Linked DNA regions of Homo sapiens: region 1 is linked to region 2. A link means that fine-mapping ties the variant in region 2 to the expression of a gene that starts in the linked region. Tissue or cell type: whole blood. Region 2 holds a variant in brackets; the other region holds the start of a gene. All regions are shown on one strand. Distances are between the middles of the regions.

Evidence for each region.
Region 1: it holds the start of ZFAND3, and the variant in region 2 is fine-mapped to the expression of ZFAND3 in whole blood (TOPMed, PIP 0.91).

Annotation. Positions count from the first base shown.
Region 1 is chr6:37,817,433-37,822,809 of GRCh38, reverse strand. ZFAND3 (zinc finger AN1-type containing 3) reads right to left here and starts at 3,083. Exons shown (of 6, transcript NM_021943.3): 1 at 2,794-3,083. The coding sequence starts at 2,864. ZFAND3-DT (ZFAND3 divergent transcript) reads left to right here and starts at 3,423. Exons shown (of 2, transcript XR_007059569.1): 1 at 3,423-4,232; 2 at 4,320-5,377. RefSeq lists silencers at 2,457-2,626, 2,787-3,016, 3,057-3,436 and enhancers at 2,715-3,517, 3,487-3,876.
Region 2 is chr6:37,901,362-37,906,738 of GRCh38, reverse strand. All of the region lies in intron 1 of ZFAND3 (zinc finger AN1-type containing 3), which reads right to left. Among named protein-coding and RNA genes, the nearest start is that of ZFAND3, 84 kb to the right of the region's middle. The variant G/A (reference allele first, on the strand shown) is at 3,062.

The DNA.
Region 1 (5,377 bases), 84 kb after region 2:
TCACTCACATCCCGGCCTTCACCCATGTTAGTCCCACTGCCTGAAAGGAATATTTGTTTCCATACTCTACTTCTACCCTTCCTGTGGGTCTAGGCTAAAGTGTCACTTTCTCCAGGCTACTTTCCTCTACCTCCACCCCAGCTAGGGTAGGTGCCCCTCCCCTAGAGCACCTGTACAACGTATTGCAACTGTCAGTTTACTTCCCTGTGCCCCCTGCCCCAGAGTATGGGGCCAGCACCTCCTTGCCCACCATTATATCACAGGCATTCAAATATCTGTTAAATATATTCTAAGTTTACTCAGTGAACAAAATATGAATGTGGCCCATACAGTAAGGGAAACATGTCCAAAGTCAGTTGTGATACGATGGAAACAAGGCGGCAATGTTGCTATGCTTTGGTATAAAATACAAACTACACAATTGTCTACAAACGTCCTTAGGAAAGGTTAAAACATTGCACCAAAAAGAACACTTTTCACGATAAAAATACTAGTTTTGTGGTCACTACTCCTGCTAGGTAAACTGAAGTTCATAAAAAGTATCAGACTGAAAATATCTAAAAAGAAGCCCTGGTTGCTTATAGGTCAAGTACAACATTAGTGTAACTTTTCCTGTCTGCTGCCACCAAACTCTATTGGCATTATCAGAACCCTACCGGCTAAAGGTAAAAGGCTGGCCGGGCGCGGTGGCTCATGCCTGTAATCCCAGCACTTTGGGAGTCCAAGGCAGGCAGATCACCTGAGGTCAGAAGTTTGAGACCACCTTAGCCAACATGGCAAAATCCCGTCTCTCCTAAAAAACACAAAAATTAGCCGGACATAGTGGTGTGCACCTGCAGTCTCAGCTACTTGGGAGGTTGAGGCAGGAGAACTGCTTGAACCCGGGAGGTGCAGGCTGCAGTAAGTCGAGATCACGCCACTGCACTCCAGCCTGGGCAACAGAGCAGGGCTCCGACTCAAAAATAAATAAATAAATAAAGGTAAAAGGCTATTCCATTTCCTTAGTTTCTAAGCCTTGATATAAGTCTTTCGATAAAGATTCCATTCATGGTAACAGTCCGAAGGACATAAACGTGTTGCCAGGAAAGAGACCTGATACATCCTGAGCATTAGCTGCCACTGGCAGCGACTTTCTTTAGGACATATGTCTTACAATGAGTTACAATCTGAGGCTTGTGACACAAGATTTTTCCAGGGCAGCAGACTGATACCATAAACATGATGGTACTACGCACTCTAAAGAGCTCACCAGCTCCACCCTACACTCCCTGTGTGAAGCGGCAAATTATCCACCCAAAGCCTCAGTTTCCCCAGCTAATAATGAGATAATGGTTCCTACCTCGCAAGATTCTTGTGGGAATTAGACAGTCCATGAAAGCACTTCACAGGCAAACCAATTATTTTCAAATCAAAATGAAGGGAAGACTAGAAATATTTTCACATTTTTAGGACTTTTTATATGCCACAACTTATTTTTGACTAATGTCCTTCCACAGGGAAATTTTTGAGAAAGGCAGAAAAATGAGAAAATGAAAATCCACTTCTTTGTCATAACCTTGAGATACGACAACTTCCACAGAAGTCTACATTAAGATCCACTTTCTAATCTTTCTCTGCACTCCCAAAATTACTCTTAATTTCTGTTAACCATTCCTACAATATGGGAGATAGCAAAGGGAAAACTACTTCCATACTTCTTCCCAAGATGTCCTCACCAGAAACAATCTTCCTTCCTGCCTCTATGTCTCCAAATATACGGAATCTCTCAAAAAATAAAACTAAAACAAAACGATAAAAGAGAAAAGGGACTCAAATCACAAAAGCCAGCCTTCAAAGTCTCCAGCTTTCTTACTGCAGAACTACAGTCATGTGGTATGATGGAGGCACCTGTTAGGTGGCAATCCATGAAGCTTAAAGTGTTACCAGGAGAATTTAAACAGTAATGGGGGGAGGAAGAGGAGCTGATTTCCCACCTCACATTTTTTTCGCCTTAACACATGATGGCCAAACAATATATGCTACCCACTGTCAACATTTTTATCATTTTTACTTAAATTGAGAAAGAGGAGAATTTGAGAGCCAACTGAGGAAACTGGATCTCATATTCCCCAATCCAGGCTGACTTCAGGTTTTGTGTGGTTTTTTTCTTCCTTTTTGACAAGGAAATTTTACATATCTCCTGAAACGTGTTTTACATGAAGGTGAGACCTCAACAATCTTATAACTTTACCCCAGCCTGGTTCTGGACTCGGTTTTTACAAACGGGTGACGTGTGAATAGCTTCCTAAAAGCAAATGGGGCACTGGGATATAATCTAGGAAGTGATGATGCAAGTCTCCGGAGGACGGGGAGGAGGGGAGGTGAAGAAGTCAGAGGAAATACCCTCCTAGTGCCTGGGCACCAACTCACGCCCCGGGAGGGAGGAAGGGCTGGCTTCCACATGCCCACGGAAGGGGCACCCCTGCTCCTCCCGGAGCGGTCAACGCCGCCCCCTCATCCCTCCCCGCCGCCCTGCCCCCCTCACCCGTGGCCCAGGAGGCCCCCGTGGGCCCGAGCTTCAGGCCGGCGAGTCCCAAAGGGTAGCAACGCACCCCCGGCAGGGCCTTCTCTGCCCACCCCCAGCTCCCCACCCGGCACCCCTCCCCGGAACGCGACCCCCACCCCCTCCCCGTAGGCCCGGGCTGGGCCCAGCCTCCAAGGTTCCGGCCTCCCGGGCCCCGAGGCCTGCCCAGGCTGCCCTGGCGTCTGCGCCCCCGGCCCCCGCCCCCCGCCCCCACCCGGCCGGGCACTTACCCCCAGAAGCCGCAGGGACAGCGAGGCGGCAGGCTGGGCGCTTTGCTGCGCTCGCTCCCAGCGTCTCCCATGGTGCTCGGCGGCGGCGGAGCTCGGCGGCGGCAGCGGTGGCGGCGGCTGGGCCCGGGCCCCGCTCTGAGGAGGCGGTGGCGGCGGCGTCGGGGGGCTCGGGGCGGGGGGAGGGGGAAGGAGCGGGCGCGCGGGCGGGCGCGAGTCCGGGGCTCGGAGCCGGGATTCCAGGCCGGTCAGCTGGAGGCGGGCCGCACCACTCGGCCTGCGGAGACGGGGAGGGGGCGGAGAGGCGCGGAGAGAAGAAGGAGGGAGCCGAGGAGGAGGGGCGTGCGGACGCACCGAGGACCGCGGGGGAGGAGGGACACAGACGCCCTCGGCGGGTCTCACCGCCGCTCCCCAGCCAGAGAGATGTCCTGTGCGGTGGCGCAGGGAAGGACCGGAGCCCCCCGCCGGCTCCGGAGTCGCAGCGGCCGCTCTGAAGCCCCGGGCCCTGCTGTCTCCGTAACACCGTCCCCTCCCCCGGAGGCTGCGCTGACCGGACAATGGCCGCTCCGCCCCCTCCCCGGCGTGCGCCCCTCCCGAGGAGTCACAATGGTCTCGCCCGGGGGAGCCAACGCCAAAGCCCAGCCGCTGATCAGCTGGGATCCGGGCGTGCCACTTCGTTCCGCGCCTCAAAGGCGGAGTGCGGGGCTGTGGGAGAAAACGAGAGCCTCGGGCTGTCGCCCGGCGACGGGCGGCTGAGGCCTTCGTATTCTTAGAACTTTTAGAATCTGAAGCAAACTTATCTTCCCCCTGTCTGAAGAAGGGGAGCAGGTTTCTGAGTACTCCGGGGCGCGGTGCCTCCCCCTAAACGCGAATGGTGCGCTCCAAGCGGGAGGGGGAGGAGCAGATTAGTTGTGTAGGGTAAATTGGGCCAGTCCCAGAGTGGCGGCGCATGCGCCCGTAGAACCCGTAACCGAGTGCGAGGAGGGGCCTGGGGGAGCAATGCCAAACGCGGAAGTGGAGCTCTGGCTTCCCGGGGGCGTCGGAGTCAAGGTCCCTGGAGCTGCCGCTCTGGCTCCTGGGCGATTCCGGGGAGCCATTCTCCCCAATTTGCCAACTCCCTGGGCATCTCTCTCTCTCTTCCTGGTCCCGCCACACCCAAACAACTCTTATAGTTCCACCCGGTATACTGGTCTCTTGACAGGAACTTTTGGGAAATGCCCCTCCCCCAGCCCCTTGTCTGGGGCAACTTCCTTGTCTCTTCTCCCCCACCGGTGTTGGGGAGTTCCTTGTCTCCACTCCCAACCACAGAGCCACAAGTACATTATCTATGCCCAGGCGAGTCCCTATGCCCAGGCTAGGAGAGCCGCACTTCTTCCTACAGCTGACACGTTTGGTTTTTGGAGGGGAAAGGGGAGCTGTAGCTGAATCAGTAATGGAAATTGGTAAGTGACCAAAGAAGTTTGAGACACTAAAAAAATGAGTCCTTTAACGATCCTAGTCCTTGATCCTGAGCTCATTCTGATCTCCAGTTAGTCATGAACAGAGAAATCGATTATTGATGACTAATTCAACACGGAGGCAACATCCTCCAGACCTTTTGGAGACCCATCGCTGAGGAAGACTTCCTGGCTCTTAGGAATAGCTGCCGTATACCCTCCTTGCCTGTCGGGTATATCAGAGCCTCAGAGAGACTATTACCTAGATTAATTTGATTACCAAATGTTGCTATCTTATTTCTTTATATACCAAATCACATTTCTGTTTGTGCATACTGTGTGGGTTTGTTAACATTGATGTTTATTTTGGCCTCTAAAGAGCAAGGATCGCATTTAGCTTAATATGCCACAGATGCTGTTGATGGTGAAGTTAATGATTGCAAAAATCAAGCACTTAAAGCCAAAACACCCTAAAATGTGAGTGCTGATTTATTATGCACAATGTTTAGTTTTAATTTGGTGGATTTTCCAAAGCCTTCAATAAGTATATCTGTAAGAAAGTGCATAGAAAAAGCCGGACGCTGTGGCTCACGTCTGTAATCCCAGCACTTTGGGAGGCCAAGACGGGTGGATCACCTGAGGTCAGGAGTTCGAGACCAGCTTGGCTAACATGGTGAAACCCCGTCGCTAGTTAAAAAAAAAATACAAAAACTTAGCCGGGCATGGTGGCACGCGTGTAATCCCAGCTACTTGGGAGGCTGAGGCAGGAGAATCGCTTGAACCCGGAGGGCGGGTGTTGCAGTGAGCCGAGATCATGCCATTGCACTCCAGCCTGGGCAACAAGAGCGAGAGCGAAACTCTGTCTCAAAAAAAGAAAGAAAGAAAGAAAAAATGCATAGAAAGGATAAAGCCATACAGCACACCTTGCTCTCATTGGATTCATATTACCCTTAAATCTTCATTTAAGCCGACATAAAATTCCCACATGCGTGAGATACTTAACAGCCTTTGAGTTTAACAAAGATTAAGTGGGATTATCTCTCTTGGCATCTTGATGATTTTCTTTTATGTACAGAAAAGGAAACTCGACAACTAAAAGGAGAATTCAACATAAAAAGTGATTGTCATTTTCCAAACTGCTTTCCTGTTTG
Region 2 (5,377 bases):
CTAGGGTGGCTATAAAATTTAATTAAAAAAAAAAAAAACAGAAAGTAAGTGTTGGCCAGTATGTGGAGAAACTGGAACCCTCATACATTGCTAATGGAGTGTAAAATGGTGCAGCCACTGTGGAAAACAGTTTGGACTTCCTCAGTAAGTTAAACATAGAATTACCACAAGACCTAGCAATTCCACACCCACGTGTATACCCAAAAAGTGAAAATAGGTGTTCAAACAAAAACTTATACATGCATGTTCGTGGCAGCTCCACTCACACAGCCAAAAGGTGGAAGGGACCTAAATGTCTATCAACTGATTACTGGATAAACAAGGCTGTTATATCCATACAATGGAATGTTATTCGGTCATTTAAAAAAAATGGAAGTTATGCAGTAAGATACACACAACAACACGGATAAGCCCTGAAAACATTATACAGTGAAAAGTCATTTTTTATTATTTCACTCATATGAAAGAGACTGAATAAACAAATCCATAAAGACAAAAAATAGATTAGTGGCTGCAAGCGGATACAGAGAAAAGAATAGGAAGTGGCTCCTCAATGGGTACAGGTTTCCTTTTGGGGTAATAAGAATGTTCTCAAACTAGACAGTGATGACTGCATAACACTGACTGTACTAAACACCACTGAATGATTTACTTAAAAATGGTTAAAATGGTTTAAAATGGTGTATTGTGTAAGTATTATACCATAATTTAAAAATAAAACTCTGCCTGTGGGTGTACAACATTTTTAACTTGAACTTAATTACTATAACTTTTTCTACCTCTTTTGGCTTTTATGTATACCATAGATCATATTATAGGTATGTCAAAATATTAAACATTTACTGAACACTTGCTACACTGCTACAAACAAGATGTATGCTAGCAACTTTTTTTGAATTTCAGTTAAATCCTTAAAAAAAACTATAAGGTAGGTAGGTATTATCATTCCCATCTTATGCTTAAGAAACCATGGCTAAGAGAAATGAGGCAACTTAACTAATAAGTGGTACACCCTAACCCTAACATTTTTAAGATTAACTCAAATATAAAAGGGAATAAGCTAAATGATTTCTAAGGTAACTTCCAGCAATACAACTCTATGAATATGCCACATTTTAAAAAACACCTTCCGCAAAATGTCCTGACAATAGCTTTCCAGTGAAATATATGAACAGAAAGTCAGCACTAGTCCTAAAAGATCTTTAGTATGACACATGTTAGCATTTCTTTCCCTCTACCAGTATAAGATATTAATTATTAATTACCTTACTGGTTACCATTTCCAGAGAACCCAAAAGGTCCAAGGTGATTGTCACCAAATTTCAAAGTATATCATGAAAGGTGGGTAGCAGAGAAACTGACTATATGTAAACACCTACAGAAAGGAAATTATTAAAAAACACAGATTCCTAGGCCCCACCCCAGGATCTAGTGAATGAAAATCGTTGGGTCAATGCCCAAGAGTGCTTACATTTTCTTAAAAGTCCAAGTGGTCAGCCCAGTTTGGGAATTGCCACAGGAAAGTAAAATTTATATTTTGTCAAACAGGACATACAAGCCAGTCCAACTATACTGACTTTGGAGTACAAGAGTATAGGATTTATAATCTAGTTATGATGTCAGACCTTTTTACTGTACACTGACATTTCAAAGGACATGATTCTACCCAAAGATACTTGAATCTTTGCATTGATTCATTCATGATACTCAACATACCAAATTGTACTTATATTACCTTTAAGAAATATTTTAGTGATCAATTCCAACTGCTCATACACATAAATGTATTATATGAAATACACACACGTACACACTAGAAGCCTTACACAACATGTAGCAGGGTTCCTGACAATCTAACCCCAAATAGTTTTTAAATAAACAAGCACAAGTAAATCCAACATTGACTGACATCCACATTATGTGCCAGGCACTGTTCTAGGCGCTGTGAATATAGCCAAGAATAAGACACATTCTCACAATACTTATTATTAGCAGGGACATGAGTCACTAAGCAGGCTACTATGGAAATAATCACCCCTCTTCATCATTTTCCTTATTTTGCTTTTAGAAGTGAACATTCTGCTTCATCCTTCCCTAGGTCATTATATAATTCTTGCTTTGTCGTATCAATCCCTTTAAATTCCAGTTTTCATTATACATGGGGAAAATGTACAGCCAGGCAGCCTCTGTCACTATTTCAAAGCAACTGGAAAATCCCAGAATCCACATTTTCATTGGGCTGAGACTTTCCAATATGCCTAATAATGATACTTTATGACCTGGAAGTTCCAATGAATTGGTAGTAAGAAAACATTGATTTGCTTCAGTGGCACTGTGATTGGAATGGTGATTAAATGCATCATGTTAAATTTACCCTGGGCCTTTTCCAGTATAGCAAATATAAAATGAGCTATCAGCATCAGCAGAGCCTAAACCACTCCTTCCTTCTAAAACGGTACTTCTGCTGCATGTCAAAGGTGATATGATGGAACTTCGCCCATTAATAATCAGGTGGCATAACATGACAAACTGTATACACCCACATAGGCTTCCACAGGATGTACACTGCCCAACATGGTTTATTCTATTTAGCAACTTGGGACAACCTTATGTATGTCAGAGCAGCACATTTGCACCACTATAGTTAATGGTCTGTCAGCATTTCCATTATAAAGCAATTTTCAAAGGTTTATTGCTCAGCTGAAGAATCTGCTCTGAGCTGAAATTTGGCATTCCAGAAAAGCAAAAACTGTAGGCTATAGTTATTTATTCCTTTCCAAGCAGGCCAAGTAGTTTGTTTCTTTTTAAAGAAAATCTGTCCCTTTATTTCAGAATTTCGTCATATTGCCCTTTGAGAATATCCACAGAACAAAAACCTCTCACCTCATAAAGGGACTATTGTTTAGAATAGCAGCTAGCAACTTACAAGGTACAGAGGATAGATTCCAACTTATTTATGGAAAACAATTTTTAAAAAGCAAGCACATTTTTATGAATTGCACGTTTAAAATTTTCATCAGTCCTACCTTAGTTATGATTAAATTATTCATGCTATTAGAGC[G/A]CGTGCTCTGCCACTGATGACTTTGAAATTCTCAATTGTTAAACCTCCTTTATCTCTCCCACCCAAGAACCACAGACCACTGACCTAGGGTCAATGTTACATACTCTTGCTATTCCATCTTACTCTACTAAACGGAATATGCGCTGTAAGTAAAAGCTTGGTAGCAAGAAAGGTGATACAGTAGATAGGAGACGCTTTGACAGTAATTTAGAAAATTCAGAAAATGGATGATTAGCCCCTGAATGATGAAGTTCCCAGAAAACCAATGTGGTAATCTAGATGACCAGTAAATTAGTGATAAACAATTTTATTCAATCTCTGGAAACTGTTCTACTAGTCTGAAAGCTTGCCAGAATATTTCACGTGTCAAAGAAGAAATTAAATATTCCTATATATTTTGTTGGTGACTCTAACTAGAAAGCTTAAATATTTACACCTTAAATTATAGGATTTTTCAATTATACAGGTAATTATAATTCTGATACAAGTCTACCCAATAAATAAAGAAGTTTTAACACAAAATTGGTTTTCTAAGCTTAAAAATTCTCATTATGTACCAATAAAGACTCTCAAAACTTTCAAGACTGGTGATCAAAGCAACCTTTTAAAAATGAATACTTTTTAGAGAAGTGTAAGGATCCATCCTAAATTACTGCACACAGCTTGACATGCTTTGCCAATTTTCCAGCTTTATGTTACTCTGAAATTATTACTATTTAAAATCATCTATGAAACTACTTCCAAACTAAGTAACAACATAGGGTAATGTTTGTAAAATGTTAAGTAAATGGGACATGGCCAGTGCAGTTGCTCATGCCTATATATAGTCCCAGCTACCTGGGAAGCCGAAGCAGGAGAATCACCTGAGCCCAGGAATTCAAGTCCAGCCTGGACAATATAGTGAGACATCATCTCTTAAAAAAAAAAAAAAAAAAAAAAAGTAAGTAAAAGAAGCTTGCTGCTGCATCTCTATCTGAAAAGAAAAAGTCTACATTCAATTAAAATTACTTTTTTAAAAAAGGAAATGGGATCTAATTCATGATTACAGCTATTGGAAACAGATGTGGAAGCAACAGACAAGAACTAGAAGGGTCTAACACACCTGAAAAGATATGAACAACATTTTCTTTTATAATTTTTACTAACGTTATATTTGTTTTGTTTGTTTGGTGGTGGTGGTGGTGTTTTGAGACAGGGTCTCACTCTGCCACTCAGGCTAGAGTGCATGGCAGGCTAGAGTGCAGTGGTATCATCTCAGCTCACCACAGCCGCAGCCTCAACCTCTTGGGCTCAAGCAATCCTCCTTCCTCAGCCCCCCGAGTGCCTGGGACTACAGGGATGTGCCACTATGCCCAGCTAATTTTTGTATTAAAAATACAAAATACAATAATTTTGTATTTTTTGTTTCACCATGTTGCCTCGGCTGGTCTTGAACTCCTAGGCTCAAGCAATCCTCCTGGCTTGGCCTCCCAATGTCCTGGGATTACAAGAGTAAGCCACTGTACCTGGCCATAATGCTATTATATTCATTTTATAACAAATATTTTATATTCAGATTCCAAATTAACCCCACCTTTACCCTTTGCAGGCAGTATCTATACTTTCCAAATATACAAATACAAACGCTGAATTTAAAAACAGAATTACCAGAGGACACTCAACAAACTAACAGAATATTTAAAATTAACCCTCAACAGCTACAAGTGTTACATGTCAATTGGTTTTATATACAGCACCAGAGAACCAAGTAAGGAATTAAATTACTTTTGTCTTTTGCAATTTTGTTAAAGGCCTCAGCAAGAAGGTCTCTCCAGTACTTAACCTAAGCACCTGTGAATCCCTTCAGCTTTTGTGAGAGAAACCTCAAGTCAGTCTGCTAGTGGTTCAGATGCAGCAAACAGAACATGGAAGTGAGTATCAAACCTTCACTCAACCTCACTGCTTTCATTCAAAAGGCTGAAGCCCCTCTAAAAGGCTTAACTGAAACATACTGGAAGTTAGTAATTGATGATTTCATTTCCATATTAGAAAGACAAACACATCCTTTTTTTGTTGTTATTGAAACATGGTCTCACTCTGTCACCCAGGCTGGAGCACAGTGGCACAATGTCGGCTCACTGCAGCCTCAATCTCCTGGGCTCAAGCAATCCTCCTCCTACCTCAGCCTCCTGATGAGTAACTAGGACTACAGGTGTGTGCCACCACGTCTCGCTAATTTTTGTATTTTTCAAGAGAAGGGTTTTCACCATGTTGCCCAGGCTGGTCTCGAACTTCAGTTCAAGTGTCGGGATTACAAGCGGGAGCCACCACACCTGG